Homo sapiens: one gene and its partner. The protein of the gene in region 1 interacts with the protein of each later gene in a pairwise test. Each region holds a gene or a part of one and is shown in the gene's direction. Other genes may lie near its edges.

Region 1 (3,866 bases):
ACCCGCTGGCTTGCTCCTTCTCTGCATCTCCCTCCCCTCTTATTCTCCTACCCCACAGCTCACTGTCTGCAGGCTGCCGAGGAGGCTGCTTCACCTACACCATGTCTCGAATCAACTTGCGGATCCGGGAGCAGCTTTTCTCCTCCCTGCTGCGCCAGGACCTCGGTTTCTTCCAGGAGACTAAGACAGGTGGGGCCTGGAGTCCAGGTCTGAGATTCCCATGGACATCCCTTGCCCCTCAGTGACCTTCCACCCACAGCCTCTCCTCCTGCCTTCACCCGTATGCCAGGACTTGGGGATGCTTTTCTCTTGTTTGGGACAGGGTGGAGAAGCAGCCTCCACTGTCCCTCTGCAAGTGAAGGAGGATGTTCAGAGGAGGGGGCTGTGTCAGAGGGAACGGTCAGGAGGGAGTTTCTGGGGGCCCTGCAGTACACATGGTTTCCTTTTTCCTCACCTGCTCTGTCCTTCTTAGGGGAGCTGAACTCACGGCTGAGCTCGGATACCACCCTGATGAGTAACTGGCTTCCTTTAAATGCCAATGTGCTCTTGCGAAGCCTGGTGAAAGTGGTGGGGCTGTATGGCTTCATGCTCAGCATATCGCCTCGACTCACCCTCCTTTCTCTGCTGCACATGCCCTTCACAATAGCAGCGGAGAAGGTGTACAACACCCGCCATCAGGTGAGCGTGCATGTAAGGGAACCCCAAAGGGAGAATAAAACTGACAGGTGAGGAGGCTTCCACATTTGTGGCTAGAGGATCCCCTAGAGAGAGATGTTCTCTTCTCAGCCATTAGGGGAGAAGGTATATTGTAGTATATACTACATTTTGTTTGTCCAGCCATCCAACAATGGATATTTGACTTCAGAAGATTCATGATTCTCCAGAACTGTAAACAAAAATGTAAAGTGTATGTGAAGGTATGGGGGAGGGAATAGGAAGGGGAGATGATAGGCGATGATAACTTTTCATTAGCTTCTCAAAGGAGTCTGTACATCCCCCGCCCCCACTGCGAAGATTAAAAATGGTTTCTTAGAGGCTTTTAGGCAGGGAGATTTTCCCTTTAAAATCAGCAGAAGAAGTCTGGATGCAGCATAGGGAAAGGAGGCGTCATCAGGAAGTCCTAAGTCTGAATGTCAGCTCCACCTTCTCTTTTTCTCTTATATTGTGGTAAAACATACATAACATAAAATTTACCATTTCAACCATTTGAAGTGTACAGTTCAGTGACATTTAGGAAACCCACATTGTTATTGGGTAACCATCATCACCATCCATCTCCAGAACTTTTTTCATCTTCCTAAAATGAAACTCTGTACCCACTAAATAGTAACTGCCTACTACCCCCAACCCCTGGCCGCTGGCAACCTCCATTGTACCTTCTGTCTCCATGAATTGTGATGACTCCCGGTGCGGTACGTAAGTGGAACCATACAGTATTTGTCTTTTTGTGACTGGCATATTTTACTTAGCGTAATGTCTTCAGGCCTCATCCATATTGTAGCATGTGTTAGAATTTCCTCCCTTTTAAGGCTGAATAATATTCTGTTGTGTGCATATATCACATTTTGATTATCCATTCATCTGTCAATGGACATTTGCGTTGTTTCCACCTTTTGGCTGTTGTGAATTATGCTGCTGTGGACATGAGTGTACACCTGTTTGAAACCCTGCTTTTGGTTCTTTTGGGTATATACTTAGAAGTGGAGCTGCTGGATCATATGGCAATTCTATTTAACAATTTTTGAGGAACCATGTATTAGTCCATTTTTACGCTGCTGATAAAGACATACCCAAGATTGGGCAATTTACAAAAGAAAGAGGTTTATTGGACTTACAGTTCCATGTGGCTGGGAAGACCTCAAATCATGGCGGAAGGTGAAAGACACATTTCACATGGCAGCAGACAAGAGAAAAGACAGCTTGTGCAGGGGAATTCCCCTTTTTAAAACCATTATATCTCGTGAGACTTATTCAATATCACAAGAACAGCATGGGAAAGACTTGCCCTCATGATTCAATTACCTCCTACCCAGTCCCTCCCACAACACATGGGAATTCAAGATCAGATATGGGTAGGGACACAGCCAGATCGTATCAAACCACCATACAGTTTTCCATAGCGGCAGCACCATTTTAAATTCCCACCAGCAGTGCATAAGGTTTCCAATTTCTCCACATCCTCATCAACACCACTTTCTGTTGTCTTTTTTTTTAATAGCCATTCTAATGGTGATTAGGTGATTAGGATTATCTCATTGTGGTTTTGATTTGCATTTCCCTAATGATTAGTAAATATTGAGCATCTTTTCGTGTGATTTTGGCCACTTATGTTTCTTTCTTGAAAGAATGTCTGCAAGTTCTTTGCCCATTTTCTGATTTTTTTTTAAGTTGTGGGAGTTCACTATATGTTTTGCCTATTAATTTCCTATCAGATATATGATTCACAAATATTTTCTTGTATTTCATGGTTGCTTTTTCACTCTGTTGCTAGAGTTCTTTGATGCACAAACGTTTTAAATTCTGATGAAGTCTGATTTATCTATTTTTTGTTGCCTGTGCGTTTGGTGTTATATCCAAGAAATCACTGCCAAATCTAGTGGCATGAGGCTTTTCTTCTACATTTTCCTAGGAGTTTTATAGTGTTAGCTCTTATGTTTAGGCCTCTGATCCATTTGGAATTACATCTCCACCTTTCTTAACTATCTGTGGCTCCTTGGGAAAACTACCCTTCTTTCCTGATTCAGACACTGGGGATGGGAAAATTACCTCAAATGAAGGTTAAAAAAATTGCATGTATCTCCTATACTACCTAACACTGAGAGCTCAATAATATTTTGTTCCCTTGCTCCTTCACTCTTATTCCTTCTGGAAAGAAGAGTAAGGAAGAGGGAGAGAAACAGTTTGGTATTTTTAGGTAGACTAGGGAGCATCTCACTGGCTGGAGTAAGATGTGGGGGCCTGCTGTCTTTGCACATCAGCCCTGGTGTTTGCTGGCCCTCTTTTCCAGGAAGTGCTTCGGGAGATCCAGGATGCAGTGGCCAGGGCGGGGCAGGTGGTGCGGGAAGCCGTTGGAGGGCTGCAGACCGTTCGCAGTTTTGGGGCCGAGGAGCATGAAGTCTGTCGCTATAAAGAGGCCCTTGAACAATGTCGGCAGCTGTATTGGCGGAGAGACCTGGAACGCGCCTTGTACCTGCTCGTAAGGAGGGTAAGATACCAGAGTGGTTGTGAAAGGAGCCCAGGAAAGGGGGAGGGCAAGGGAAGAGGAAACTACAGCTGGTTCTAGAGGCCTTTGCAGCTCAGTCTCATAGAGGCAGAGAGGGGGAAAGAATGGGAAGATTCCCAGCCTCATCTCTTTCTTCTCCTCTTCCAGGTGCTGCACTTGGGGGTGCAGATGCTGATGCTGAGCTGTGGGCTGCAGCAGATGCAGGATGGGGAGCTCACCCAGGGCAGCCTGCTTTCCTTTATGATCTACCAGGAGAGCGTGGGGAGCTATGTGCAGGTGAGCGAGAAGCCAAGCCTGCTCTCCTTTTTTCCCTCTCTTTTTCTTTGTGGACTCCTGGGCCTTGGGCTTTATTTGTTCTTTTTAACAATACAATACAAAACCAAAACCCGCAAGTAATTTTGCTATGGAGAATTTTAAACATATGCCAAAAATGAGACAAAATAATATTACAAACTCACATGTATACATCCTGTGCTTTAACAATGATCAACTCATGCCCAATCTTGTTGGATCTGTATCCCCAGCCACTTCCCCCCACCCATATTATTCTGAAGCAAATCCAAGATATTGTATACTTTCATCTGTAAATATTTCAGTATGTTTCTTAAAAATACAAACATCTTTAAAAGTGTATAACAACAAA
Region 2 (3,866 bases), on another chromosome or scaffold:
TGCTATATTGCCTCTTCTCTTTGCTATATTGCCTCTTCCATGAGGAAAAGGGATGGAGTGCTGCTCTTCCCTACCCATCCCTTTTAATGCCATTAAGACTCTTCCTGGTGGTTTCCAAGGCTTATTTTGGGTGACAGTTGTTGAACTGAAGTATCATGTAGTAATAGAGACTTTGGCCTCCTGCCCAGTCAGCCTCTGGCTTCAGAGGAGGAAAACTTTAGTTTCTCCACACAGAACCACGCCCCTTTCACCTTAAATGGCAGCTTGTGTGCCCTGGCTGCCAGAGCAGTTGTCCCAAGGGAACTGGTTCTGGGGCCCTGGTTGTGGAATCACTGAGGCCTTTGAAGGACTGCCCAGAGGGCATGCCCTCCTTGAATAAATGTTTGTTGAGTTGAATTTGAAGTCTTGTGTTCACACATTGTTACTCCCCTCCTGCCTGAATGTTCACATTTCCTTTAGTATTTCATAGACATTGATGGAAGCAGAAACCAAAACTCTTCCCCTGGAGAATGCATCCATCCTTTCAGAGGGCTCTCTGCAGGAAGGACACCGATTATGGATTGGCAACCTGGACCCCAAAATTACCGAGTAAGTCTAAGTTACCTTAGTTTTTTACCTACAATATTGGGATGTTTTGTGGTGATGATGTCAAGAAGAATTTTCAAGGGGTGTGGGATATACTTAGACCCTTTTACTTACATCGTGTCTTCGGAGAGATAAGATGTTGTTAGCCTGTTATCTTGTCACTTTTTTTACATTTGGACTCTGCTACTGCAAGGACACAGACTTGGGTATCCTTTAATCCATATACCTGTTTTTTTCCTATCTGCCAAAGACGTTCTCCCATTTCCAACTATTTGAATCCTTGTACCTAGTAGCTCTAGGGAATTATTCTCTAGAATCAGCCTTGGGAATACATTTGTACCCAGAATAAAGGAACAAGCAGAAGTCTCAGTACCTTTGCAAACAGGCAGAGGAGACCACTTGACTGTAATTCATATTAAGCAGCCATAGAACTATAGAAGGTCAGAGTTGTAAGGAACCTTAGAAATCATGTCCCTTTGGTTTTCATTCATTCATTAAATGATTTGAGTGCCAAGTGCCATGCTAAGCAGTTTGCAGACTTCTTAAATCTGAAGAACCCTGTCTTAGAGTAAAAGTAATAATCAGAGCTGTATATAAAATAAGAGCTCAGAGTTGCTCTGACTAAAAGGGAGAAGAGATGGAACCAAAATCTTTTGTCAACTACTACCCTTTCTTTGGCCATCCCTGTTTAGGCTCTGTAGAACTTCCAGGGCTCCATAGAGCACACTTGACAACCTCTGATGGGACCCAGCTTTTTTATCCTACATAGAGGAAACCAAGTCCCGAAAGACAGAAGTACCTTGCCCGAGTTCACGAAATTGATTGAATTGCCCTGACTCCCTGCTCTTTTACATCACAGCCATTAAGATGAAAAGGAATTTCTTAGCTGAGAAAATTGAGAGGTTTTTCCCTTCTGCCAGTTATTTGATAGAGGGAGGGTGGTGGTTGGTGGCAGAGTACAATGAGTGGATTGGCCTGTATGAGGTCAATGCTGAAAGCCAGTTTTTTTGTTTGTTTGTTTGTTTTTGTTTTTGTTTTTAAGACAGTCTTGCTCTGTTGCCCAGGCTGGAGTGTAGTTGCACAATCTTGGCTCACTGCAACCTCCACCTCCTGGGCTTAAGCAATTCTCATGCCTCAGCCTCCCGAGTAGTTGGGACTACAGGCATGCGCCACCATGCTGGCTGATTTTTGTGTTTTTAGTAGAAATGGGGTTTCACCATGTTGACCAGGCTGATCTCGAACTCCTTACCTCAAATGATCCACCCACCTTGGCCTCCCAAAGTGCTGGGATTACAGACTTAAGCCGCCATGCCAGGCAGAAAGCAAGTTTTGAGCATATCATCAGTCCTAGAAGTTACTCCCTTTAGAATAGTGTTAAAGACAAGGGGAGGCCGGGCACAGTGGCTCACGCCTATAATCCCAGCACTTTGGGAGGACGAGGCAGGCGAATCACTTGAGGTCAGGAGTTTGAGACCAGCCTGGCCAACATGGTGAAACCCCGTCTCTACTAAAAATGAAAAAATTAGCCAGGCATGGTGGTGCATGCCTGTAGTCCCAGCTACTTGGGAGGTTGAGGCGCGAAAATTGCTTGAACCTGGGAGGCGGAGGTTGCAGTGCACGGAGATTGTGCCACTGCACTCCAGCCTGGGCGAAAGGTGAAGGGAGGAGATGAGGAAACCTGCTTCTTTGAGTATGAGATGAGACAAGGTATATATGAGAGTTAAGATTAGGAAAGAGAAGAAAAGGATATAACCTTATAAATCAGGATTATAACAAAAAGTTCCTTAAACCTGCTCAAGCTCATATCAGCCAAATGTAAATATATTCAGTTCCCTTAGAAATTATGACGGTATTTAAGATGTGTTGCCCACATATTATGTTATCTTGGTCACAGGGACCCTAGAGTGGATTGCATTTATTTCAGTTCTCTTTTACGGTTCATGGCTTTTGAGGGTGAGTATATGAATCTGTCCAACCTCTCAATTAATGTCTCTTCATCAAAGAAATTTTTTCCATCATCCAAAACCCAGGCTATGAGGGGATGCTCATAGTGGTTTCCATTCCCACCTCTGCCTGTCTAAATGGAAATCTAAAGTGTGGAAACAGCGTTGGTTGTGTTGGCTGCACTTCTCTGTAATGAGACTTTTGTTCTAATTGTGTCCTGCTGCTTGACGGGAAGGTTCAAATGGGCATTTGCCACCTCAGTTTATGTCATAAGTTGGAGTGTGTGGATGTTTTTTTCAATTAGAACATTGGCAGGAACATTGAATCAGAACTTTCCCACTGATATCTCTGCTCTTTTTACATCAGGCCAGAGGTAGACATCAAGTAATAAACTAGATCAGAGCATGCTGGCTGGAAGTGCTGGGCTTTCCCTGTGGCTGGCTTCTCCACTTCTGTATCACAAAAGACCATTTTTATTATTTTTTCCTATAGATTCTTTTTTCTTCTTCTTCTTTTTTTTTTTTTTTTTTGACAGCTCTGTCACCCAGGCTTGAGTACAGTGGCACAATCATAGCTCATGGCAACCTAGAACTCCTGGGTAGCTGGGACTACAGGTGCTCGCCACCATGCCTGGCTAGTTTGTTGTTTTTTGTTTTTGTTTTGTAGAGACAGGGGTCTCAGTATGTTTCCTAGGCTGTTGTCAAACTCCTGGGCTTAAGCAATCCTCCTGATCAGCCTCCCAAAGTGTTGGGATTACAGGCGTGAGCCACTATGCCTGGCCATCCTATGGATTCTTTACCTTAAAACATTTTATCTGTCAAACAGACTGGTTTATTAAATTGTAATAAATTTATGCTTAAAGATATAACTACCACTGAGCACGGTGGTTCACACCTGTAATCCCAGCACTTTGGGAGGCCGAGGCGGGTGAATCACAAGGTTAGGAAATCGAGACCATCCTAGCCAATGTGGTGAAACCCCATTTCTACTAAAAATACAAAAATTATCCAGGCGTGGTGGCGGTTGCCTGTAGTCCTAACTACTCAGGAGGCTGAGGCAGGAGAATCACTTGAACCCGGAGGGCAGAGGTTGCAGTGAGCCGAGATCACACCACTGCACTCCAGCCTTGGCGACAGAGCAAGAATCTGTCTCAAAAAGAAAGAAAGAAAGAAAGAAAGAACTACCAATCATAGCTTATGGTTAACATGAAATATTAATATTACCTCATTTAATTTACTTAATTAAAAGGAACCTGACATTTTAGTAAAGTAAATCTTATCTTGTAGAAATTGATGATTTCCTTCCATGTTTTTGAAATACAAAAACTTCTGGATCTT

The links. Proteins that work in one complex are often made in the same cells at the same time.
Region 2: the proteins of TAP2 (region 1) and RBM18 interact in a two-hybrid assay, tested with the Homo sapiens proteins (one large-scale study listed by BioGRID and IntAct).

Annotation. Positions count from the first base shown.
Region 1 is NC_000006.12:32,831,966-32,835,831, reverse strand, and holds part of TAP2 (antigen peptide transporter 2), read left to right. Parts: intron 1-58; coding exon 59-189; intron 190-472; coding exon 473-678; intron 679-3,007; coding exon 3,008-3,205; intron 3,206-3,370; coding exon 3,371-3,499; intron 3,500-3,866. UniProt on the Homo sapiens protein: ABC transporter associated with antigen processing. In complex with TAP1 mediates unidirectional translocation of peptide antigens from cytosol to endoplasmic reticulum (ER) for loading onto MHC class I (MHCI) molecules.
Region 2 is NC_000009.12:122,258,102-122,261,967, reverse strand, and holds part of RBM18 (probable RNA-binding protein 18), read left to right. Parts: intron 1-459; 5' UTR 460-475; coding exon 476-588; intron 589-3,866.